7 linked regions of the Homo sapiens genome follow. The protein of the gene in region 5 purifies or fractionates together with the protein of the main gene of each other region. This does not show direct contact. Each region holds a gene or a part of one and is shown on either strand. Other genes may lie near its edges.

The links.
Region 1: the proteins of PLEKHO2 (region 5) and CAPZA1 purify together in Homo sapiens (affinity purification with mass spectrometry; 3 studies listed by BioGRID and IntAct, with this or other methods). This does not show direct contact.
Region 2: the proteins of PLEKHO2 (region 5) and FAM184A purify together in Homo sapiens (affinity purification with mass spectrometry; 3 studies listed by BioGRID and IntAct, with this or other methods). This does not show direct contact.
Region 3: the proteins of PLEKHO2 (region 5) and CPAP purify together in Homo sapiens (affinity purification with mass spectrometry; 3 studies listed by BioGRID and IntAct, with this or other methods). This does not show direct contact.
Region 4: the proteins of PLEKHO2 (region 5) and VEZT purify together in Homo sapiens (affinity purification with mass spectrometry; 3 studies listed by BioGRID and IntAct, with this or other methods). This does not show direct contact.
Region 6: the proteins of PLEKHO2 (region 5) and PPP2R2D purify together in Homo sapiens (affinity purification with mass spectrometry; 3 studies listed by BioGRID and IntAct, with this or other methods). This does not show direct contact.
Region 7: the proteins of PLEKHO2 (region 5) and MAP3K6 purify together in Homo sapiens (affinity purification with mass spectrometry; 3 studies listed by BioGRID and IntAct, with this or other methods). This does not show direct contact.

Annotation. Positions count from the first base shown.
Region 1 is NC_000001.11:112,626,332-112,629,831, reverse strand, and holds part of CAPZA1 (F-actin-capping protein subunit alpha-1), read right to left. Parts: intron 1-3,500. UniProt on the Homo sapiens protein: F-actin-capping proteins bind in a Ca(2+)-independent manner to the fast growing ends of actin filaments (barbed end) thereby blocking the exchange of subunits at these ends.
Region 2 is NC_000006.12:118,959,263-118,961,463, reverse strand, and holds the end of FAM184A (protein FAM184A), read left to right. Parts: intron 1-1,279; coding exon 1,280-1,361; 3' UTR 1,362-1,701; downstream 1,702-2,201.
Region 3 is NC_000013.11:24,898,862-24,902,361, forward strand, and holds part of CPAP (centrosomal P4.1-associated protein), read right to left. Parts: intron 724-3,500; coding exon 558-723; intron 1-557. UniProt on the Homo sapiens protein: Plays an important role in cell division and centrosome function by participating in centriole duplication. Inhibits microtubule nucleation from the centrosome. Involved in the regulation of slow processive growth of centriolar microtubules.
Region 4 is NC_000012.12:95,266,307-95,269,806, reverse strand, and holds part of VEZT (vezatin), read right to left. Parts: intron 3,451-3,500; coding exon 3,175-3,450; intron 1-3,174. UniProt on the Homo sapiens protein: Plays a pivotal role in the establishment of adherens junctions and their maintenance in adult life.
Region 5 is NC_000015.10:64,844,915-64,848,414, reverse strand, and holds part of PLEKHO2 (pleckstrin homology domain-containing family O member 2), read right to left. Parts: intron 1-3,500.
Region 6 is NC_000010.11:131,907,508-131,911,007, reverse strand, and holds part of PPP2R2D (serine/threonine-protein phosphatase 2A 55 kDa regulatory subunit B delta isoform), read right to left. Parts: intron 1-3,500. UniProt on the Homo sapiens protein: Substrate-recognition subunit of protein phosphatase 2A (PP2A) that plays a key role in cell cycle by controlling mitosis entry and exit. Involved in chromosome clustering during late mitosis by mediating dephosphorylation of MKI67.
Region 7 is NC_000001.11:27,364,162-27,368,167, forward strand, and holds the start of MAP3K6 (mitogen-activated protein kinase kinase kinase 6), read right to left. Parts: upstream 2,801-4,006; 5' UTR 2,437-2,800; coding exon 2,097-2,436; intron 752-2,096; coding exon 612-751; intron 524-611; coding exon 500-523; intron 234-499; coding exon 43-233; intron 1-42. UniProt on the Homo sapiens protein: Component of a protein kinase signal transduction cascade. Activates the JNK, but not ERK or p38 kinase pathways.

The sequences.
Region 1 (3,500 bases), on a different chromosome or scaffold from region 5:
AAAGGTAGTGGGAAAACACTCTCTTGTTTGGTAGAACAGAGGATTTGGAGAGAATAAAAGAGAAGGATGAACTAAGGTAAGTCAGATAGCAGTAATGATGGTAATACCAAATCTGGTTTCATTCCGTATGTCATTGGCAATGGCCACTTGCTAAAGCTTTCTGAGGACAAAGCTCCATTAATAAAAATCTATCAGTAATACAGAAGTACTGGAGTCCTCAATATGGCCTCACAAAACTTGGAAATCAGACTGCCCTATGAGAGTTAACAATGAAATCAAGACAGATGCTATCCAAGCAAGATTCATGCATTCAACAAATATCAGAAGACCCACTATGTTTTAGGCAATGGTGACTCACTAGCATACTGTCCTCATGGAGTTTACATTCTAGTGGGTAAAGACAACAGAGAAGATTAAGTAAAATACTACCTGGCAAGTGATAAATGCTAAGGAGAAAAAACAAGGCAAAGAAAAGGGACAAGAAATGTTAGGATTTGCAACTGGACAGAATAACCAGAGAAAGCTTCACTAAGGAGATGACTTCTGGTTAAGTATCTGAAATGAGGGATACAGAAGGAAAAGAACTCCAGAGAAAAGAACAAATGCAAAGATTATTCAGCGAGAATACGTGATTGGAACAAAGACCAGAAGAAGAACATGTAGGAGATAAAGTCAGAGATAAATGGCAAAGAGGTAACATCCCAGAACATAGGGACTTAGAAAAAGATGGGAAGCCACCGGAGGGCTTTGAGCAGAAAAGTGACATGTACTGACCTACATTTTAACCAGATCACTCTGGATGCTTCATCGAGGACAGACTGCTGGGCAGGAGCAACAGCAGAAGCAGGGAAACCATAAAAAATAGTATTTTAATAATCTAGAGGTCACAATGGCTTCTTCCAGAGTGGTTAGAATAAGGGTGTGGTAAGAAATAGTCAAATTCTGGGTTTATTTTAAAGACAGAGCCTACAGGATTTACCAGTGGACAACAAGTGGATTGTGAAAGAAATAGTAGTCAAAGATAACACTAATGTTTTTGACCTGAGCAACTAAAGAATGGAAGTGTCATTAACCAAGGGCGGGCAGACTGTAGGAGAAGCTGCAGTATGCAAAATTTTGACACATAACCAGTCCTGCAAAACTCCCCTGCTAGTAATGTGATAACAAATGAACCTATCTAGAGGAAAAATGTCCAATGCTGTTATACAAAGACGTGACTTGGTTTTGGTGTTGGGTACATATGCCTATTATGAAACAAAATGCCATCAATACTTTGGACTATCTAGTTAACTTCCTTTGTTCTAATTCTATGCTCCATTAAAACATTCTAACTTGATTTCCCATGTTCCTGACCTATCTGAAAAAAAGAACTTAGTTCCTTCTATATGTATTAAATTGTTATTCCAGTTTTATACATTAGTTTCATAAGCCTAGCTAAAATGAGTTTATCCCCGAGAGAGACCTGGTTTAGTATCCTGATCAATCAAGCTTCTGAGCTAAATAAGCAGAGGACTAAGATTTGAACCACAGCAAGTTCACTAAGATAATGGTTCTCAAGTATTCCAATAATTATTGGGAGGCTTATTACAAATAATTCCTGACAACTGGTTCCAAAAAATTCTGATTCAATATACCTAGGATGGAACTCAGAAATCTGTTTTTGAAGGAAACACAGATTCTGCCATAGGCAAGGATGTTCTAAGATACTGTCATACTGTAAAGTTTCTCCTTGGCCTTGTTACGGGGACTTTAGTGATCTTTAAATTTCTAGAGCCATGTTTTTCAACACCTGTTTAATAACACAGCATAAATACTAGAACTCTTCACGGCATACTTAAGCTCAAAGAGCACTAAGCAACTTTTTTTTTTTTGAGACAGAGTTTCACTCTTGTTGCCCAGGCTGGAGTGCAATGGCGCAATCTTGGCTCACTGCAACCTCCGTCTCCTGGGTTTAAGCTATTCTCCTGCCTCAGCCTGCTGAGTAGCTGGGATTACAGGCATGCGCCATCACGCCCAGCTAATTTTGTATTTTTAGTAGAGACGGGGTTTCTCCATGTTGGTCAGGCTGGTCTCAAACTCCTAGCCTCAGGTGATCCGCCTGCCTCAGCCTCCCAAAGTCCCAAAGTGCTGGGATTACAGGCGTGAACCACTACGCCTGGCCCTTCTTTTTTTTTTTTTTTTTTTTTTTTTTTTTTGAGACAGAGTCTCGCACTGTCGGCCAGGCCAGGCTGGAGTGCAATGGCATGATCTCGGCTCACTGCAACCTCCTACTCTCAGGTTCAAGTGATTCTCCCAAGTAGCTGGGACTACAGGCGTGTGCCACTATGCTGGGCTAATTTTTGTATTTTCTCTAGAGATGGGGTTTCACTATGTTGCTCAGGCTGGTCTTGAACTCCTGGGTTCAAGTAATCCGCCTGCCTCAGCCTCCCAAAGTGCTGGGATTACAAGTGTGAACCACCGCACCTGGCCATTCAGCAACAATTATAATGCAATCAGGACCACAGAACACCAATGTTTCAGTGTCTATAAAGGCATCCAGGTTACTACATGATTAACTTGGTTGCTGTTTAGGACTATGTCATTATTTCATCAAAACTGCTTACTATCTTACTATCTACTTAAAGGAATCAAAATGGGTAAGAGCATAGGCTCTGACAGCAGACAACAGCATTGTATCCACTCTGCCATTTATTAGTTCTGGACACTTGGGTCATATATTTTAACCTCAAATGTGCCTGTGCCTCAGTTTACTCTACTGTAAAATGGGCATAAGTATCTGTCCTATAAGGATGTTGTGAGATAAATACATGGTTAATACATAGTTAGCACAAAAGAAGCACTTAAATGTTACCCAGATGTAAAACAAAGAATCCACAAAGCAAAGTTCTCTTACCACCTTCCTTTGCTACAGTCTGCCATTATGCTGTTTTCTTGTTTAAACAGTATGTTATACCATGACTACACTCAACAGAATTCGATCAATGTTCCATTTCACTGACACTGCCTTAACAATCTGTATGTGCAGTTGTACCAAAGATAAATTTTACACACTGCTCAAAATTTTGTAATACGTTATAGCTGTGAAGAATTTATGATAAACCAGGAAGGATGTATAAAGAAAGGAGAGGCCTGAGGCAGAGAGATAATTAAAAATGTTGTTAAAAATAATTCAAGCATAAAAAAAGGTCCTGAGTGAAAATAATGGTAGATGGAATGTGGACAGGTTAGAGATATTATTAAGTGAAAAGTGTGTCTGTATATGCATAGAATTAGAAAAGATACAAGAGGAATTGGTAATATTGGCTACTTGTCAGGGAAACTGGGTGGGTGGAAGACAGGGGCAGGAGGCGACTTTTTACTTGTGCCCTGTCCCACCATTTTAATTTTTTTTTTTTTTTTGGTAGAGACCGGGATCTCACTATGTTGCCCAGGCTAGTCTCAAACTTCTGAGCTCAAGTGATCGTCCCGGCTTAGCCTCCCAAAGTATTGGGATTACACGT
Region 2 (2,201 bases), on a different chromosome or scaffold from region 5:
TTTTTAAATTAACAATCCATCCTTATTGTAGAACTTTAAAATAATTTTTTGTTTACTAAGTGGTTTTTGTTTTTTATATATGTTTATTTTTTTCCCTTTCTTGTTTACCAAGATTATTTATAAATATATATATATATATGCTTATTGTCAAAATAGAAACATACGTAAACTCTGGGAACTTAAATATACTTATGCAAAAACTAAATTTAGAAAAAATAAATAATTTTAAAAATTTCCATTCCAATTTTTTACCTTGCAGTTGTTGATTAAATGTATTAGCAAATTTTGAATGAAATGCAAATTTCATTAGAAATTTAGCCATTAGATAAAGTCAGAAAGTACTGTTGTTTTATGCTCATCTTACTATTACTGATTTTTTGCTGCTTTATGTTTTTTTTCTTATTCTTACTAAATCTTAGCAGTGTCACTAGTAATAGTCTTACAAAGTAGGCAGGTTTTTTTAGGCTAAGTGATTAGTGACATAGTTAATGATTAACAAAAAAAATAGCAAGAATGAAAATTAGTCAGATACACCTCTGAATTTGTCTCCTGCTAAATATTTTGTGTTGCTTATTTTCCCTTGTGCATGGGTATGTTCAGGTATCAGTAAGATGCATGTGCATGAGCTCAAGGAACATGACTACTGGAGTTTCCATTACACATTGTTGCGTGCCTTGTAATTTTCCCCAAAGACGGTAGGGATTCTTTTGTTTTCTTAAGTAGCCCAAAGAATCTTTAGTTAGAATTAAGAAAAGTATAAACTATATAACATCAATAACGGGGGAAATTATATTTTTAGTGTTCTCCCTTTCCTGGAGTATTTGCATAGGGAATTATGAAATGAAAATTTAATGTAAAATGCATATAGTAAAAAATACTAGTAGTTACTTTAGTTATATTTAAGGACACATCTGTACGATCAGCTAAAAGAGAAAAGGTGCTGAAAGAGAGGACCATTATTTTATTCTCTCGTTTCCCACAATTCTTACTGAATTTTTTATTCAAAGAAGGTGACATTTTTGCAGTTGTTTTTTGTTCTTTGTGATTGTTGTGATGTGGCTCCTCCTTAACTGACTTCATTTGAGCTGCTGATGCACTCTTATGCTCTCATGGAGTGGAGAACCGATTCTAGTATAGAGGGGGTAGCAAATCTTTAAAACACGACTTACAACATGGGGAACCCGTTGTGGTAATCTATGCTGATGTTTTATGTGCTTTTGCCTTCATTTTGCAAAATGACTTAATGCTGGGTTACATGTCTCTCTTTTTATGAATTCAGTCCTGCTCAGAGTGAAGCTTCTCCAGTGGCTTCTCCAGATCCCCAGCGCCAGGAGTGGTTTGCCCGGTACTTCACATTCTGAAAGAATTGTGTTGGCACAGCTCTGTATAGACTGTTACTAAGAGCATGACTTTATACAGATTGTTATGTAAATAGGCTTTCCTATGTCAAACACTGTGAATGAGAAAGTATTTGTCTCTCCAACTTGAAAATGCACTGTATTTCCTGTGATATTTATTGGAATCATTCTATAAGGTACTATATTATGTGTGTAATTATAACTGTTATTTTTATTTGAGATGGAAGAGTCTTTAACCTTTGTAATTACTGCATAATAAATTTTGTTAGAATCAAACAATGCTTTTTATTTTTTTCTACGTTTGCTTTAATTTTTAAATATTTTTTAATTCCAGGTAAGACTTGTCAACAAGTTTTACTGCATTATAATCATGTCATATCAAATTATTTGACTTCAGTAATCATAATAGAATCAGGATAGGGAAATAGAAACTCTTGTTCCAGTACAATGTGTAATTTTAACTAAATTGTTCTCTAAATTTACAAAGCTAGAATGAAAGTGCTTGTGTAAATTGTGGACTTTCAAGTGTATAAAATACTGTTGACTTTTAGGTGGTTTTTTTTTTTTCAGTTTTGATAGTTGAGATCTAGAACTTTAGTACAGTTAGTATCTATAATTAATACTATGTTTTATGGCCAAAAGTCACTGGGTAAAGAATAAATAGTCAATTTGATTTTAATTTGTCTTAAAGGCCAGTTTGATAGTTTTCTAAATTGGTGTAATTAATAGGGAGTGAGACATAGGGGTTTGGAGCTCAGGAAAAGAAAGACTGGGCTACAGATGTTTTGGAACATGGCATGTATGAGATAGAGAAATCCACAAGTGTGGATGAGAACAACAAGG
Region 3 (3,500 bases), on a different chromosome or scaffold from region 5:
TATCCATTTTTTCTTTTATAGTTAGTTGTGTCTTCTCTTAGTAATCTTCGTATATGCCAATGTCGTAAATAAATTCACCTATTTTTTTCTAGAAGGTTTATAGTTTTAGCATGTCCACTTCTAACTATGAAATGAACAAGACTGATAATCTGGCCTATCAGTTTATAAGTTTTAGAATTAAACACCTGGTTATTTACAGCCATAAATTATGATAAATGAACAGAACTAACAATATTTGGTGGGTGGTAGGTCAAAAAGATTAACACAACATAATGCTGGTGAATTTCCAACTCCAGGCTTGTTAATTCATCCATGACATTATCGTGGTCTTTTCTAGGAAGACTTTACTAGTAAGAAAAGAACTGAAATCTTCTACTCTTTAAAAGTCAGACTACCAAAGATATTCCTGATACACTGTCTCAGACAGATTATTTGCTGAATGAATGAATAATGGATTGATACACAGTTTTGCTTTGACATAAGAAATAACTCTGAGATGCTTACAAGATTGTCACCTTTACTAACTTACATGAATATAACATAAAGAACTAGCATACCTGTATTTCTTCACGTTCCTTTTTATCTGGAAAAGTTCTTGCAGCTGTAGTATACTTTTCAAAAACTTTACGTTCCTTTTGTAGCTTCCTCATCTCCTCCTTTTTAAACTCTTCTATTCGAGCTAATTCTTTTGCTTTCTGTTGTTCGAAGTCTGCAATTTCTTTCCTAAAATGACCAAACTATGTTATCACCTAAGGAGACCATCTCAGTGCAGTGATGTGCAGAACCTGCTGACAGGCTAGTAACTGCTAGTCCTAGTGAATTCATCTTCAATCCATAGGCCTGAAATAACAGCCAATCCACTCACTAAAGCATTCATCCAATAAGCATTCATTGGGTGCCTACGATGAATCAGGCATTCGACGAAGTAGTGGGGAAACCACAGTGAAAAAAACAAACATTCTAGCTGGGCACAGTGGCTCAAGTCTATAATCCCAACACTGGGAGGCTGAGGCAGGCTTGAGCCCAGGAATTCAAGGTTATAATGAGCTGTGATCGCACCACTGTATTTCAGCCTGGGCGACACAGACAGACTCTGTCTCAAAAAAAAAAAAATGTATTCCCATGCAGCTTCTTACATTCTATTGGAAGACAGACGATAATAAAGATAAATAAGTACATGGAATATTAGAAGCATTAAAGAGAAATAAAGCAAGGAAGAAGTTTAGAAAATATCAGAGTGGGAGGGTGAAACTGTGTTGTATGTGAGGGCTTATCTTGCTGAGATAACATGAAGGAAACCTGAAGAAAATGAGAGAGCCAGTCACAAGGGTGTCCACACACAGCAGTACAGGCAGAAGGAGCAGCAAGTGCCAAGGCCCTGAGGCAAGAATGTGCCTGAGGTGTTCAAAGAACAGCCAGGAGGCCAGTGTGACTAAAACACAGTGAGCAAAGGATGGGTAGCAGGAGAAGGTGTCAAAAAAGGAGGAGACAGGCCAGGCACGGTGGCTCACTCCTGTAATTCCAGCACTTTGGGAGGCCGAGGCGGGCAGATCAGGCCAGGAGCTGGACCTGAGGTCAGGAGTTTGAGACCAGCCTGACCAACATGGAGAAATCCCGTCTTTACTGAAAATACAAAATTAGCCAGGCATGGTGGCGAATGCCTGTAATCCCAGCTACTCGGGAGGCTGAGGCAAGAGAATCACCTGGGAGGTAGAGGTTGCAGTGAGCCGAGATCGCACCATTGCACACCAGCCTGGGCAACAAGAGTGAAACTCCATCTCAAAAAAAAAGAGGAAGGAGGCCTTGATCAGATGAACCGTCCAAACGCAGGCTGGCTCTGGATGTGTGTGAAGAGCACAGACGCGGGCAGCAGAGAGACCTGCTAGGAAGTGAATTTAATAACCAGAGAAAGCCAATGGGGTCCTGGTGGAGAGTGGCAGCTCTGAGGCAGTGAAGCAGTCGGGTTAGAAATGGACTGAGAGAGCAAGAGAAGACTCAAGCATGACTCCAAGATTTTCCACTGGGCAAATGGAAGAGCAGACTCATGTGCTGAGACAGGGAAGAAGAAGAGAAGAGTAAGTTCAGGAGGGAACGTCAGGAGCTCACTTTTTCTAAATGATCAATTTAAACACTCATCAGCTCTCCAGGTAGAGAGAACAACGAGGCAGTGGGATAGGAGATGTGGGCGAGAGAACTGGATCTGGGGCGTAACAGCATTTAAAGCCTTGAGACCGGACAAGTCTCTCCCTGCCTCACTGGAGGGAGAGCAGACAGAAAAGGTAAAAGACATTCTTACTGACTATTCAAAATGTCGACCGTGTGCACACAATCATATAGTCAAAGCAAACACTGGGGGAGGAATACTTGTGGCACATTTGAGAAAGTTAAATATCCTGATAAATGAGCAAAGATCACAAAGAAAGTTACAAAATAAACACAAATGACCACTAAATATAAAAGCATGCTCAACTTTATCAATAATTAAATAAATACAAACTTTAGCAGGTGAAAGATGGCATAATTATCAGGTTGGCAAGATTTGAAAGACTGCTAACGCTCAACTCCAGTGATGGGGAAAGGGGTGAGAAGAAGCCTCAGATGCTGACTGGGGCAATGGACATTCTTAAAATTTATCACAAGGAAGTAGATTTTTAAATAAAAAGTGTCTTATACATATGACGATATTCCCTGCAGAATAATTTCTAATGTGGAAAATTCTAAACAAGCTAAATTTCCATTAACTGATTAGTCACAGTGGCATTCATATAATACAGTCATTTCAAGGATACAGAAGACTAGGGCGTGCTAATAGGTAAGATGTCTATTATGTTGTTGAAATGAAAAGCAAGGCTGGACATCGTAGCTCATGCCTGTAAGCCCAGAACTTTGGGAGGCCAAGGCAGGGGGATCACTTGAGCCCAGGAGTTCAAGACCAGCCTGGGGAACATGGCAAAACCCCGTATCTACCAAAAATACAAAAATTAGCTGGGCGTGGTGGTGCGTGCCTGTAGTCCCCGCTACGCAGGAGGCTGAGGTGGAGGATGGTTTGAGCCCAGGAGGCAGAGGTTGCAGTGAGCCAAGATTGTACCATTGTACTCCAGTCTGGGTGATAAAGCCAGACCCTGTCTCAAAAAAATAAAAATAAAATAAAAAGCAGATTAAAGAGCCCATACAGTAGAGCCCAGGGCTCTACTGAACCACACTGCCTAGGCTGGCACTGAGGCTCTCTGTCACTGACTAAGGAGGTAAACTTAAAAAACTTGCTTCTCAGTGCATCAGTTTCCTCATCTGTCAATTGGGAAGGATAACACAATGTCTAAATTCGAGGACTGAATTTTGCTTAGAACAAAGCAAAACCGAAATAGGGAAAATGCTAAAAAAAAACAAAAAACAACAACAAAAAAACAAAAACCCAGCCATTATCTTATGACTTAAATGTTCTTTAAAAGAAAAAGATGTCCGTTTTGAAATAATGAAGCAGAGACGTTTTAAAAGTGATC
Region 4 (3,500 bases), on a different chromosome or scaffold from region 5:
GAGCAAAGGCTTCCTCTGATGTGGGGAAACAATGGATTCTGGCTGAGATATAACAGAAATGTAGAAATATTTATTAAGAATCCACATCTTTTTTACATAGACACTATGCTTGCTAACATATATTAGAGAAGAGCTACTTTATATTCAGTTTTCAAAACCTATATCCATAGGAAGTATGAAGACCTTAATTATAAACACTTTTAAATTCTTAATATACATTTACATACGTTCATCACATATGTTCACTGATCATATTTTGGTCACTTGTACAGAAAAAATACTGTATAGAAATACATTCTGTACATTCATAAAAGTAGGGTAAAATTACTTACCCACCTGCTGCCACTGGCACTTACCTACTCAAAATGAAGTAGGGGACGTGGAAAGATAACAGGACCAGTGGCCAACAGGGGAATACAAGTAGAAAGGCAAAGTAAGGGTTACTGCATAGTAGCATAGCTACTCTCAAAGCTGTTCAAGAGGAAGCACATTTCATGGCACTTCCCATAAGATTAATGGGGAGTACCTAATTTGTAACAATGACATACAATGTATTACATTTCATAACTTACAGTATATATGAGTAAATACCTGGTTATCAGATAAATTTTTTCACCTAACCAGTAATCTTTCCCAACAGTAAAACAAAATATTGGCATTTGTAAATTGCTTATACTATAACACAAAGCTATAAAACAACACACCTAACTCAAAACTTTAAAAATGTTAAACCATACTAAAATGTATTCAGGTATTAAAAATCTATAAAAACCAAATTTTAAAAAATCTATAAAAAGCAGAGGATGATGACTGACAGGCTTATGTTAAGACAAGGGAATGAAGGCAAAAAAGGTTTCAATTATTTGTGAGAGAGGACAATTTGAGTCAGAAACAAAACAGCATTCATGATTTCAATATATGGCACTACTGCTTGTGCTCCATTTTACTAAATCAGTTTTAAAAACTGTCTAATTTTGAAAATGTCTAAAAAATTATGATTCAAGACTTATTATTCATTTTTCAACCCATTATCCAGTTAGATAGAGACAAAGGAAGCACAATTTCTTCCAATACTTCTCTTCGTCTGTCATCTGAATGGGTAGAAGTCATAATCTGGAAGGTAAATCATGTCTAACTGGCCCACTTTACCTCTTCGTGCAAATTCCATGGGGACAGATAAAGTTGGAAAATGACACAAGGCACAGAATCCTCTATACACGCCTAACCATTAGTTGAACAAAGCCACTTTGTTCAACCAGTAAGTCCTCTCAATAAAATAAAAAGGAACTATTACTTTTTTTTTGTTTTTGAAACGGAGTCTCGCTCTGTCGTCCAGGCTGGAGTGCAGTAGCGCGATCTCGGCTCACTGCAAGCTCTGCCTCCCGGGTTCATGCCATTCTCCTGCCTCAGCCTCCCGGGTAGCTGGGTCTACAGGCACCCGCCACCACGCCCGGCTAATTTCTTTTTGTATTTTTAGTAGAGACGGGGTTTCACCGTGTTAGCCAGGATAGCTACGATCTCCTGACCTCGTGATCCGCCCGCCTCGGCCTCCCAAAGTGCTGGGATTACAGGTGTGGGCCACCGTGCCCGGCCGGAAATATTACTTATTTTAAGCATGATTTTTTTAAACTTTTAAAATTTGACACTTAAACAACTTAAAAACGTGCTATCCTTTAAGTCAATAAGAAGTAGACTTCAACTAATGCAACGACAAAAATCAACAGATGCTAAGAACTTTTATACTTTTTTTTTTGAGACCAAGTCTGTTGCCCAACCTAGACAGAATCTGTTGTCTCCAGTTCTGTTGCCCAAACTGGAGTGCAGTGGCACAATCTTGGCTCACTACAGCCTCAACCTCCTGGGGTTTAAGCAATCCTCACACCTCAGCCTCCCGAGTAGCTGGGACTACAGGTGTGTGCCACCACGTCTGGCTAATTTTTTATTATTTGTAGAGATGGGGTTTTGCTAGATTGCCTAGGCTAGTCTTGAACTCCTGGGCTCAAGTGATCCTCATGCCTCGACCTCCCAAAGTGCTGGGATTACGGGTGTGAGCCATTGTGCCTGGCTGACTTTTATACTTTGATTGAGAAGAAAGAGAAATTATAAAATCCATCTTATGTCTTGGGATTGTGTGTAGAACACAAGAGAGTAAAGAACAAGATAACTACTGGGATTCTTCCATTTCTCTATTCCATGATTTTTTAGAAACAGTGTTTATCTCAAGATTGTGTAATGTTCTAGAGCAGAACAGAGTGAAGGATGCGATGGCTACCAGAGGTTCTTCACTCCCTCTTTTCATGATTTTCTAGATACGACTAATTAAGAGCTATGAATGTTCTTCACCATATGCTTACTTTCCCCCACCTATAGATTGCAAAAGTTATATAGGTTATATAAATTATTAAATATACTAGCACACAACTGTCATCTGTTAGTGTTTGGCAGGTGTCCAGTGTACTGCAAGCCGGGTTTAGAATCAGATGGAATGGATATGAATATTTACCATTTATAATTCTATGCCTTTAGTTGTATGCAAAAGTGACTAGCATAGTATATGGAATATAGTTGGTGCTCAATAAATGTAACTTTCCCTTTAATAATAGATTAAGTAGTCAATATATCCTACAGCTTAATATACTTACAGCTAGACTGGTGAATATTTAATTTCCTGTAAGAATGGAAAACATCACTATTTGCATGATATTCTGAGAGTATCAGTGCTATAATATCTGCTAATATTTACCTGAACAGTTATTAGTACATGTCAAGAGTTTTCAAAATGCATTTATAGCAGATACGTCTATCATAAAGAAGGCATTTGAAAGGGAGTAATGGGAGCAAGCATTTACTGGGTAACTACTGCACGTTAGGTTCAGTATCAGACACTCTCTATATATTATCTCATATAATCACATGGTAACATACAGAAATAATCATGATCTCCAAAGTACTTTAGTTCCTCAAAGCAGATAGGCAGAATCATACTACATATTAAATCTAGCACATAATGTATTTATTCCTTCACTTAGCAGTTAATTGACTTTAGTAAGTACTAAAGAGAAAAGCACTTTTTTTTCCTATAAATGCAACATAGAAATGAAAATAGGTAATAAATATTCTCCTTTATGGAATAGAAAATAATCATTTAAGAAATAAAATAAAAAATGAACTCACAGTGTAAATCCTCTGGAAATCACTTCGGTTTCTTGAATGAGACGTAAAGCTTTTCTCACGAGGTTAGTAAAAGCTCGGCTGTTTGTGGCCATATCTTCCAAATGAACGCTGTATTTTTTTAGGGTCACTTGTAGTTTGGCTGTCCTCCATAATCTCAAAGCTCTTATGACCAGATACACAAATAGAATCACTCCCCATACCAGCCAGGAAGACACAATCCACCAAGTGGGAAGCATAACGAGCAAGCTAATGAAGGCAAATAGCATTGAGAGATCCCTGGGAACAAGAAAGGAAGAAAATGATATGCATCAGATTAGAGAAAGAAA
Region 5 (3,500 bases):
ACAATAATAGCAGCAGCCACTTTACTCTGAGCCACTGTATAACATTTGATACACATAGTGTCATTTCACTCTTACAACTCCCCTCCAAGATGGTAGCCTCATTATCCACATGTCATAGCAAACTAAAGCTCAGAATGGAGGATGACTCGACAGAGTGGCAAACCACTGCTAGAGGACAGAGCCAGAATTCAAAGCAGGTCTCTCTGACCCCACGTTTTTCCCACTCCACCATTCTGCTTCCATGTGTTCATTCAATCAGTCAACAAATGTACTGAGTGCTTACAACATCACAGGAGAATAAAAGTAAGGCAGTCTCTGTCCTCAGAGCTCACAGTGCGGGAAAATAGGAGCTGAACAAATAAATACCCAGGCATACCCATCAACCTGTGTGAAATGCTATACAGGAAACACACAAAGGGCAGCGAGAGGACAGTGGGGGACCCAGTTCAGGTTGGGGTGGCCCAGGAAGGCCACCCAGAACAAAGACTGGAAGGACAGGCAGGCTGAGTGGCAATCTGCCTCTCTACCGCTATGCTTCTAGAGAACCCACTCTGCAGCCCCTTCCGCTTCCCACCCAAAGCAGGAGGCTCCTCTCCCCTCCTCCCCACTCCAGGCAAGGACCTTAGGGTGGCCACCACATCTGGTGAGGGTTCCAAGGACTCTGTCTTTGACCACAGGCTGGCACAGGAGTTAAATTCAAGCCCTTCTCTTGGACTTGGGTAGACACCCTGGAGCCTTGGGGCCAGCTACTGACATCTTGTGCCTCATTGATTGCCTGCTTGGGTGGCTGGGTGCCAGATACATGCCTACCAAATAAGGTTGGGGTCAGATCCACTTCTGGGTCCCCAGCACCCAGCCCTGTTCTTTTACACATAATGGGTGCTCAAGAGGTACGCGTGAAATGAAAATAAAAATACACACCCTTTGCTAACCACTTTGCTTCACTGATAGGTACCCAGAGTCGTGAGTGTGAAGTGGGGGGTGAAGGAGAGGGGATCAAGAATGTGTCAGAATCTAGAGGCTGCTAGAAGGAAATTAGCATGGACTAATTTTGACTACGTTATAATTTACATAAAATTCAAAAAAGGGGCCCCAGTTAAAAGAGGTGTGCCTCTCCCCAGGGATATCCTGTGGCCACAGCTGCCTTTGGAAGAACAAGCCCAGACAGATGTAAGCGTGGTGCACTGTCAGGAGCTGGGAAGACCTGGCTTCCCTGGTCTCTGTCATGGCAGGGGAACCCCAGCCTGGTTCTCACTGTGGGCCCCCACCCCCTTTTGAACTGCGCATTCTAGTGGTGGGGAATCTGGGCTTAGAAGCTGCAGTCATGCAGACTGAAGCAAACCACTTAACCTCTCTGAGCCTCAGTTTCTTCATCTGTGAAATGCAGCTACTAACAGCAGAAGTTGTAAGGAATCCAACTCCACGAGGGCAGGATTTTTGTTTTGTTCACTCCTGTACCCTCAGTTCCTAGACAGTGACTGGCACATAGTAAGTGTTCAATAAACATTTGTTGCTGAGTAAAGACAAAGCATATAGAGCAGTTCCCAGGATGCCCTAAACCTAGTAAACGGCAGCTGTCATTATTGTTACTATTGTCACTGCCATCCTCTCTGGCTCTCAGGGACCCTCTCCCTGGGCCCAGTTCCCAAGTCAGGACAAGCCCTTTCTGGTCTATAGCTGCTGGCCTCAGATCTCCAGGAGCTCCAGGAATGTGGGGTCCCACCTTGGGGTCTCTCCCTAACTTGTAGATGGCAAGAGAAATGGGGAAGTGGGGTGGTCCAAATGATCTTCCCAGGGTCTTCTTCTACAGGCATGGTGGGTCATGCCTGTAATCCCAGCACTTTGGGCCGAGATGGGCAGATCATTTGAGGTCAGGAGTTTGAGATCGGCCTGGCCAACATGGGGAAACCCCAACTCTACTAAAAATACAAAAAATAGCCGGGCGGTGGTGGCGCACGCCTGTAATCCCAGCTACTCAGGAGGCTGAGGCAGGAGAATCCCTTGAGCCAGGAAGGCGGAGGTTGTGGTGAGCCGAGATTGCACCACTGGACTCTTGTATGGTTAACAGGATGAGGCCCTGTCTCCGAAAAAAAAAAAAGGTCTTCCCAGATATAGGAACAAGGAAGTAGAAGGCTGGCCGATTATGAGCCACCCTGTCCAGGAGAAGAGGGATTTCAGCACCCTTTGACAAGAAGGGAAAGGCTCTCCCATTCCATCATGCACTCAACTCCCATTCCCCACATCACCACTGACACCCCCAGGGCCCTAACACTACTTCAGCGAGCCCTGCAGGCTGTCATAGGCCCAGGGCTAGAAGGGAAGAACAGGGAAATGGGAAACCCCACCCCCACATTTCACACTGACAACCCTCCTACTGCAACGGCAACAGCAAGGACAGCACCACCAGCCCCTGCCAGGCCTTCCACCTGATGGGCAGACTCTTGGTTTCTCTTAAACAAGGCAGTGAGGTCTGTGGAGTGTGAAGCTGTTGCCCAGCCACCCACCTCTGAGCTCCAAGCTCGCCTCTTGCTTTCAGGGGACCCACCCACCACCCCAAGGGATCTCACACCCCTTTCTAAACTCTCTCCACTCATGACCTCTCCTGAAAACTTTCTACCCTCTGGAAGCTCCCTAGGGCCACAGCTGGAACTTGTGCCTAGATCACTGTCACTTCTGGGCTGATGTAGCCTAGAGAATACTGTGACTGGATTACCTACAGAAACAAGTCCAGGTCCTTGAAGAATGAATGGGACCAGGGCAGGACTAGGCGAAACAGCACTTTGGTATGGAGAAGGGGACAACTGAAGGGCTACAGATGGTGTGAACCACAGCCCAGCCACAGAAACAGCCACCCAGGGGAGGACTGGCTGGAGGCCAGAGTCCTAGTTGCCTCCACCCAGCCCCCTTCCCTGCCCCTCAGACCCCCTCCCTCCAGGGGGGCCTGGCTATGCCCCAGTAAGTTTTAATAAGGGGCCCCTCCCCTTGGCAGGGTTCACAGGGGAGGTTTTGTCCTGCTCAGCCCAGTTTCTCGGCCTCCTCTCCTCACTGAGCAGCTGACCGCTGTTCTTCCTGTTTTGCCCTCTCCCCTCCCATCCCTCCTCACCCAGGCCCTTTCCTGCCCACTGTGAGCAGCTCCTGAGGCACCCCTAGGCACCAGCCTGCCTCCCTTGGATCACTCATTAAAAAAAAAAAAAAAAAAAGAAGCCAGGTCACCTCAACTCTGTACACAGAAGGGGACAGATGGAACCACAACACAGGTTACGAGAGACAGAGACTAGAAGAAACTTGGTTGGCACCTCACATCCCAGGAAGCTTATGACAACCTTTGCTCTTTGACAAAACCCAGTGATGTTCTGACCCAACTCTACTAAGAATCCACCGTGTCAGAGTCCTGTGCCGGGGCATTGAGAGAGAGGAAGCACAGGCTCTGCCCCAGGGCAACCTTCAGTCTGAGGTGGGTAACAGAGACGCTGTATAAGATAAGTCCCCTGTCTGGTGGG
Region 6 (3,500 bases), on a different chromosome or scaffold from region 5:
GACACTGAGGTGATGCACAGGGCGAGGGACGGGGGCTGAGACACAGAGCTCCCGTGTCCTCTCTGGGTGGGCCCCCCTCCAGAAACATCTGGAAGCTATCTTCAAACCCAGTCCATACATAGGCAAGACTGTTTGGCCACTGGTGATCAGCTTAACCTTCAGCTCCCCCACCCCTCACCACTCCCCGAGGTTGGGGATCGGGGCTGAAAGTCCCAACCTTCTAATCCTGCCTAGGTCTTTCTGGTGACCAGCCCCTGTTCTGAAGCTACCCAGGGGTTGCCGGCCCTTAGCCAACGCATTACGAAGACATCACTGACGAGCCCGAGGATTTTAGGAGTTGTGTACTAGGGAAGACCAAATACATATTCCACAGTATCACACAAGCTGAACTAGCCCTTTTTTTCATGGAATGCCATTTTTATTTGAAAGAACAACTGACCAACTTTGGTTATTAAGAATTTGGTATCTGGCAGAAATTGACTTGAAAATGAACACACTGCGTCCCTCACTTCACAGAAAGTAACTGACAGTATTTGTTACCAATGATAAAATCCAAGCTTTCAAGAGAAAATTAGAATTTTGGAAAACTTTTCTCTACTACTGCTAATTTGACAGTTTCTCACTTTTTCTTCTGATGAGATCAGTGATGACATTAAAAAATAGGATTTTCTTCAAGTTTACATAATGGAATGTGTTAACATTTAGAAAAAAAAACAACTCCATGTAACAATATTTCCAAACAACCCCCGTGTGATGTTACCAAATCATGTCCATGAGCAAAAGACCCACTCTGAGCACAAGACAGACCTCAGGGTTCTGACGGAAGAGAGTACAGAAACGTCACTGACTCCGAAAGGCCGGCACACTCAAACACGCTGCCACCTGGCGAGTTATGGTGCATCGCTAAGAGCCTCCAGGATGACCCCTCTTCTGCCCACATGGAAGTGTGACGCCACATTTTCCTTACACATTTCAATAAAGCAACTGGAACACACGGAATGCAGAAGCAGGTCTGAGAATCCAGCCGTCACCTCTTAAACCTCATATTTTAAAAGGATGTGCAAAAGTGTAAAACAACACTGTTCTTCTTGCTTAATCTTTTTGTTTTTGAAAAGTTGTTTCTCATTAAAAAGGTTATGTTAACATGTAGTAGATTCTTTTAAAGTAAAATAAATATTGTAAGTTGTTCTGTTTTAATTTCAAATATAGAAAACATCAACAGCGATAACCAGCACAAACAAAGGCTCTCTGGATCCTCAATATAACTATTAAGAGTATAAAATTATTCCAGCACCAAAAGACTTTGCAAACCAACTCTAGGTCAGGGTTTAGCAAACCACAACCTGGGCGACATCTGGCCAGCTGCCTGTTTTCTGTAGGCATGCTCCTGTGGAAGCAGGGCACAGAGCCACGCCCATCCATCTCTGCAGGGTCTATGGCTGTCTTCCTGCTAAAGGCAGAGTTGAATTCAGTCGTTGCAACAGGGACAGGATGGCCTGAAAGTCTAAGATACTTACCATTTGGCCCTTTACAAAAAAGCTTGGCCACCCCGAAACTAGAGTAAGCCCATTTTCCCAATCTTTATTATTGCAGTAACTTCCTATCTCCATTCTTACCCACCACCATCCACTCTCCAAAGGGCAGAGTGACCTTGTTAAAAACAAAGCTGATGTCGCTCCTCCGCTTAGGATCTGAAAAGCTCACAATCACTCAGAGTCCTGAGCACACGATTCAAGTCCTTTATTCATCATCCTGTGGCCCCAGCCAGCCTCCTGCTCATCACAGCCACTCCCTTTTCTGCCAGAGGACCATGCCAAGCACTGACCTCTCAGAACATACCATGCTCTGTCCAACCTCCACACCAAGCACTCTCCACCTGGAACATTCTCCTCCCCTTCCCTTCCTCCCTCTTCTTATACCCTGATGTCCTCCCCTCCACTCCCTACCCAAGTCTGTGTACTGGGTACTTCTTCACATTGCCTCAGTGTGCTCTGGTCCAGCCATGGTGCAAGGACCCACCTGCTTGTCTGTGTCCAAACAGCGTTTCCTGAAGGCAAGAACTGCATTTCTATTTCCAACAGCCAGCACTAGCAGCCCTTTGGTATGCTGTCGTGAACTTTTCAGATGTGCCAAGCTGAAAGCTGGCCCCTGCATTACCCTTCATTTTTCTTAAACTGGCTCCCTGAAGTGACAGAGTCAGCTATTTTCCTATGCAAGAGGGTCTCTTAAGACAACAGCCTCTGAACAGTTACCAGTTAACGTGTTTGTTTGTCAGAGCTTTCCATACATTTTCTGGAATCTTCACAGCAACCCTGTAATGGTCACAAGTAATAGTACCCGTTTAACAGATGAGAAAAGAGTAAGTAACTTCCCAAGTTAACACAAAGCCTGAAGAGGGTGAAAAAGGGATGTGTACCAAATTCCACGTGCACAATTCCTCTCCATCACCTGGTAATATCATGACATTCCATATGCTGACTGACATCCAGTGGGAGAGACGAGCCTAATAATACATGTGATAAAATAAGGGAACCACAAGCAGGACACAGCCAATTGCTAAACAACATGGAACACAGTGTGAAAGGGAAATCTGGAGTCTAAGACGACACTGAACGCTGAGGGGAGCTGGAGCAGGGACTCGCCAAGTGGGATTGGAGGTGGATTTAGAAGGATCAGCAGGGCTTAGGGAATGGACAGGAAGCAAAATAAATACTCTAGGCAAAGAAAGAAACAGGAGCAAAGATCAAGGGATGGGAATAATCACTGAATAATAACGTAAACATTAAGAGGCCAGGCCCAGTGGAAGGGATCTGGGTAGATGGACATGAAGCAGGTAAGGAAAAACAAGAAACTGCTATTTTTGTGTTTAAATATAGCTAAAACCAAGCCCCAATACTTTAAAATACAAGAGAATTAACAGTTGTATCTAATACTTGAAAAGCACTTTTCAAGTTGCAACAGCACTGCACATTGTTTGATCTTAACAAAAAGCTTCTGATTTAACTTCTAGATAAGCGAGCTGAAGCTCAGAAAGGGGCCCTCAGAGTTGAAAACAGCAGACACAAACCCAACCTGGAACTTCCCATCAGAACAGCAGACTGCTTAAAATCAGGGAACGTGGAAAATCACCAGGTATGATTCAATACCACCACATATCTTGTAAACTTAACTTCACGATGTAACGATGACCAGGCCAGCCTCCTGAGCGTTAAGATGTGGCTGTACTAAGCATGATGAGTCTGTGAATCTTTTTTTTTTTTTTTTGATATGGAGTCTCGCTCTGCTGCCCAGGCTGGAGGTGCAGTGGCGTGATCTCCGCTCACTGCAAGCTCCGCCTCCTGGGTTCATGCCATTCTCCTGCCTCAGCCTCCCCAGTAGCTGGGACTACAGGTGCCCGCGACCACACCCAGCTGATTTTTTGTATTTTTTTTAGTAGAGACGGGGTTTCACCCTGTTAGCCAGGATGGTCTCGATCTCCTGACCTCGTGATCCGCCCGCCT
Region 7 (4,006 bases), on a different chromosome or scaffold from region 5:
CCAGCCCCCTCCTGGAGCACCCTCCCTGGGGGCCTTCATTACCAAGAGTCTGTGGGTGTGGCCTCCAGCAGGCGGGCAAGCCGGCCCACCAGGGGAGTGAGCAGGGCCTCGGTCCCCACTCCAGCCTGTACCAGCCCATCAGCCAGGCCCCGCAGAAGGCCTGCATCACCACACAGCACCCGACCAGTGGCCGTCACCACATAGGGGATCAGTGTGTAGCTGCCAACGCAATCCTGGTGGGAGGGAGGCAGGAATCAGTGAGGTCAGAGGTCAGCACAGGGCTAGACAAGGGGAGTGAGAGCATCAAAGGTCAGCATCAGTGGGAATTGGAATCGCAGGAAAGGGGCACCCGTCATGAGAGGAGGCAACAGGAAACAGAGGAATACTTGGGATGTCAGTGGGGGGTTAGGTGACTGAGGAGGCCAGGGGGATTAGTGGAGGTCAGAGGTCATAGCGGAAGTCAAAGGGCACTTTTGAGTGAGAGGTGGATTCTGCTCACCGAGTTCTTCTGGAAAACATCCTCCTGCAGGAGGCAGACAGTCAGATACTGGTGTTCTGTGTAGGCCTTACCCCAGCCCTGTGCCTGCCTCCACCAGCCCCAGGCCACCTACCCGCAGGGCCTGCAGGTCAGGGAGGTCGGCCTGGGAGCAGAGGAGCACATTGTTGGTCATGCTGAAGCTCTCACGCACACCAAGGTGGTAGAACAGGGAGGGCTGTACCAGCGAGCTGCTCACCTCCAGCACCACCACATCTGCAGGCACAGAGGGGGTGGCGCTGATCCCTGAAGCCCAGCTTGATGGGGAAGGAGCCGGGGTCCATCCTGGCTTGACCTGCCTTGCTGTGGGACTCCAGTAGGGTCTGGTTCTGCTTTGGGCTTCAGTCGGCCCTTTTTAGGGTTCCCCTGGCACTTTCACAGAACTGATCTCTGTAGTGTTGCAGGAGAGGAGTTGGGCTCACTGGGTTGGGACCCTCAGGCCACGGTTCAGAGCCTGTGAGCACCTGGCATGGGGGAAGGGAGGCTGTGGACCAGTTGAGTCTGTTACGGGCCATTTAGGAGGTGGGAGTTGCGCAAACATAGAAGTCCCCTCCCTTTGGTCTTCAGCACAGGCTCTTGAAAGGGGCTACCATCAGTGTGCATAGACAACGCTGTGCCTAAATGTATGTATGTGTATATCTGTGACATGTATAGCTTACTATGTCTGACTGTATCTGTGTGTGTGACAGCGTCTGCTAGGGCCTGCATGAGTCAACATGTATGCGATTTGTGTCTGTCGATAATTGTATCTTTGTGTCCGAGTGGTCGGGTCAGCCTTCATTTTAGGCTACGATTTCATGGACATCCAGGAAGCACAGCTACTGGACTCTAGCATAAGCAAGTAAGTATGGGGGCCGAGCATCCGGGCTGGCTGGAGGGAGGAGTGACTCGCGGGGGAATAGCCTCCTTCTGGCCCCGCCCCTGAGCCATCCTTTCCCGCCCACTTCCCCGCCCCTTCCCCGCCCATTCTTTCTGGGCCGCTGAGGCCACTTAACCTAAGCTCCCTCACCCAGTATCCAGTCCCGTCGGGCCCCTTCGCTTCTCTTTTTGCCTCTCCTAGCCCGATCCTTGGAAATAGTATGCTAGGACTCCTGAACTCCAGCCTCCCGGCCCCTTTCCCTAAGTCCAAGCTCCTCTCCCAGTAATTGTCCTCAAGAGATCCGCGTGACATTCTCCTGAGGGTGAGGCTGAGTTCTCCAACCCCACCCCTGAGACACCACAGCCCCGCGCCGCTCCCCGCCCCGCCCCAGAGTTCCAAAGCCCCTCCCCATCCTTGCCCCGCTGGCTGGGCACCGCTCCGACTGAAGGGTGCCTAAGCCCCAACCTCGAGCCCTAGAGCCGCGCCCGGATCCCTGTCTCGTCCCGAGCCCGGCCGCGCCCCAGATCCCCTAAATCCCACTTTTTTCACGGCCCTGTCCCAAGCCCTTCAGCTTTAGCTCACTTTAAGTCCCCTAGACCCGGTACCCCTCTCGGCCCCTCCCTTGAGCCTTCGAGCCCGGCTTGGTCCCCTCCCAGGACCCTGAGTCCCGCCCGGATCCGGCCCCGCCCCCAGCGCTCTCACCCGCGTTGTAGAAGGCATCCAGAGCCGCGGTGTCGCCTAGCTCCAGCGTCCCGAAGGGCAGGCTGCGCAGCTGCGGGGGCGGCCGCGGCCGGGGGACCTGCGCGCAAGCCTCGCGCAGGCAGCGCAGGGGCAGCGGCTCCGCCTCGGTTCCCTCCCGAGGCTCGAGCCCGGGCTGCGGCTCCCGGGTCAGCACGTAGACCACGCTGAGCGGCCGGCTCCGCGCGCAGCCCCGGCCCGGGGGCGCCGCGAGCTGCCGGCCCCGGCTCAGCGCCACGGCCAGCGGGTCCTGCCAGCAGCTGCCGGCGCGCTCCGCCCCGGACCGGGGACACGGCCCCGCCATGCGGGGGCGCTCAGGCGCGGGGCGCCGCGCACTGGGAACCGGGGGCGGGGCAGGAGCCTGGGCCGGCAGATCAGGAATCTTGGGATCTGGAATCCGTTCGGAATCGGAGAATCTCCCACGGGATCTAGGGATCCGGAATACGGCCTGACGTCCCGTTCCAGGAATCTAAAGTCCAGGGAGAAATCCTAGCTCGGACTTGCAAGGTCCTGAGGTTCTGAAATCCGGGATTGGGTCCCAGGAATCTGGGGCATCCGGTGATCGGCAGCTCAGAGCCACTTGGGGGATCCTGGGAATCGGCTCGGAGGTGCCCGCCACCTGGACTTCTCAAGGGAGCGCCCGCCAACGCTGCCCTGCCTTCACTTGTAGGCTAAGCCCAGCCCTTTCCCGGCCGACCCAGAAAGCTCCACCCTCGGCCCTGGGGCAGAGCCGCTCCCTAGCGGCTTGAGACTCAGCCTCTCCCCTCCCTTCTCTCCCGCCAGAACTTTGGAGACTGGCGGCTTCCGGAACAGCCTGTGCCCCTGTGCACGCCAAAGACTGTGGACTGCTCACAGCAAGTGCACATAAAATGTGTGAGGAGGCCAGGGCTAGGGAAAAGGTTCGATATGCAGGCCCTGCTCTGCAGGTATCTGTTGAATGAATGGCTCTCTAGAGACATCAGGGTGCGCAGAGCATGATGAACAATGGGTGTCCTCCCGGGCCCAGTGAGCGCAGGCAGGGAGGGACTGGGATGGGGGAAACCTACACCCTAGGCCGCTTGCCCGAAAGCCTTCAGTCCTGGAGTGGGACTTGGCATCTGAGCCTTAACTGTCACTAGGGGGCTGCTTTCCCCAGGACCCAACCTGCTGTGGACCCCCGCTGACCTTTGACTTCTAGGCAGAACGTGGCCATGGGACCTGAGAAGCACTTCCTACTCTAAACAACTCTAAACATTTCTTTAGCCACCCCTTGAAGGAGTCAACCCCAGCCCTTTGCACTACAGCAGCTTCTCAGCTTCAAATCCCCAAGAGTCCCCAACTTTCTTGTGTGAATTAATGAGTGAGGCAGCAACCTGGTAGAAGCCTCAGTGGACCCTGAAACCAAGAACTGGGGACTTAAGTTGAATAACTTGTCCAGGATCACTCAGCACATGACAGCAGGGTGCAAACCCAGGACCGCCTGTCAGACTCTTAACTATTTAATTCTGCCACTTACTAGAATGTGGCTTTGGGCAAATAAACTGCTTAAATGCTACTCAATGGCTGTTTCATTGCCCTGTTGCCTTGTGGAAGAAAAAGGTACCTTCCTTGGTTTGACCTTGGATTCGAACTGACACCCAATGAGATAGGCAGGAAGTGGTAGAGTTTGAGAACTTGGCCTGCAACAGAGGCTGGAGTGGAAAACAGACAACTTACAAAGGACAGGCATGGGCAACCGACAGGCTGAGAAAGCTGTGCAATTCCCAGCCAGGGCGGTGGCTCATGCCTGTAATCCCACTTTGGGAGGCCAAGATGAGTGGATCACGAGGTCAGGAGTTCGAGACCAGCCTGGCCAACATGGTGAAACCCCGTCTCTACTAAAAATACAAAAAAAA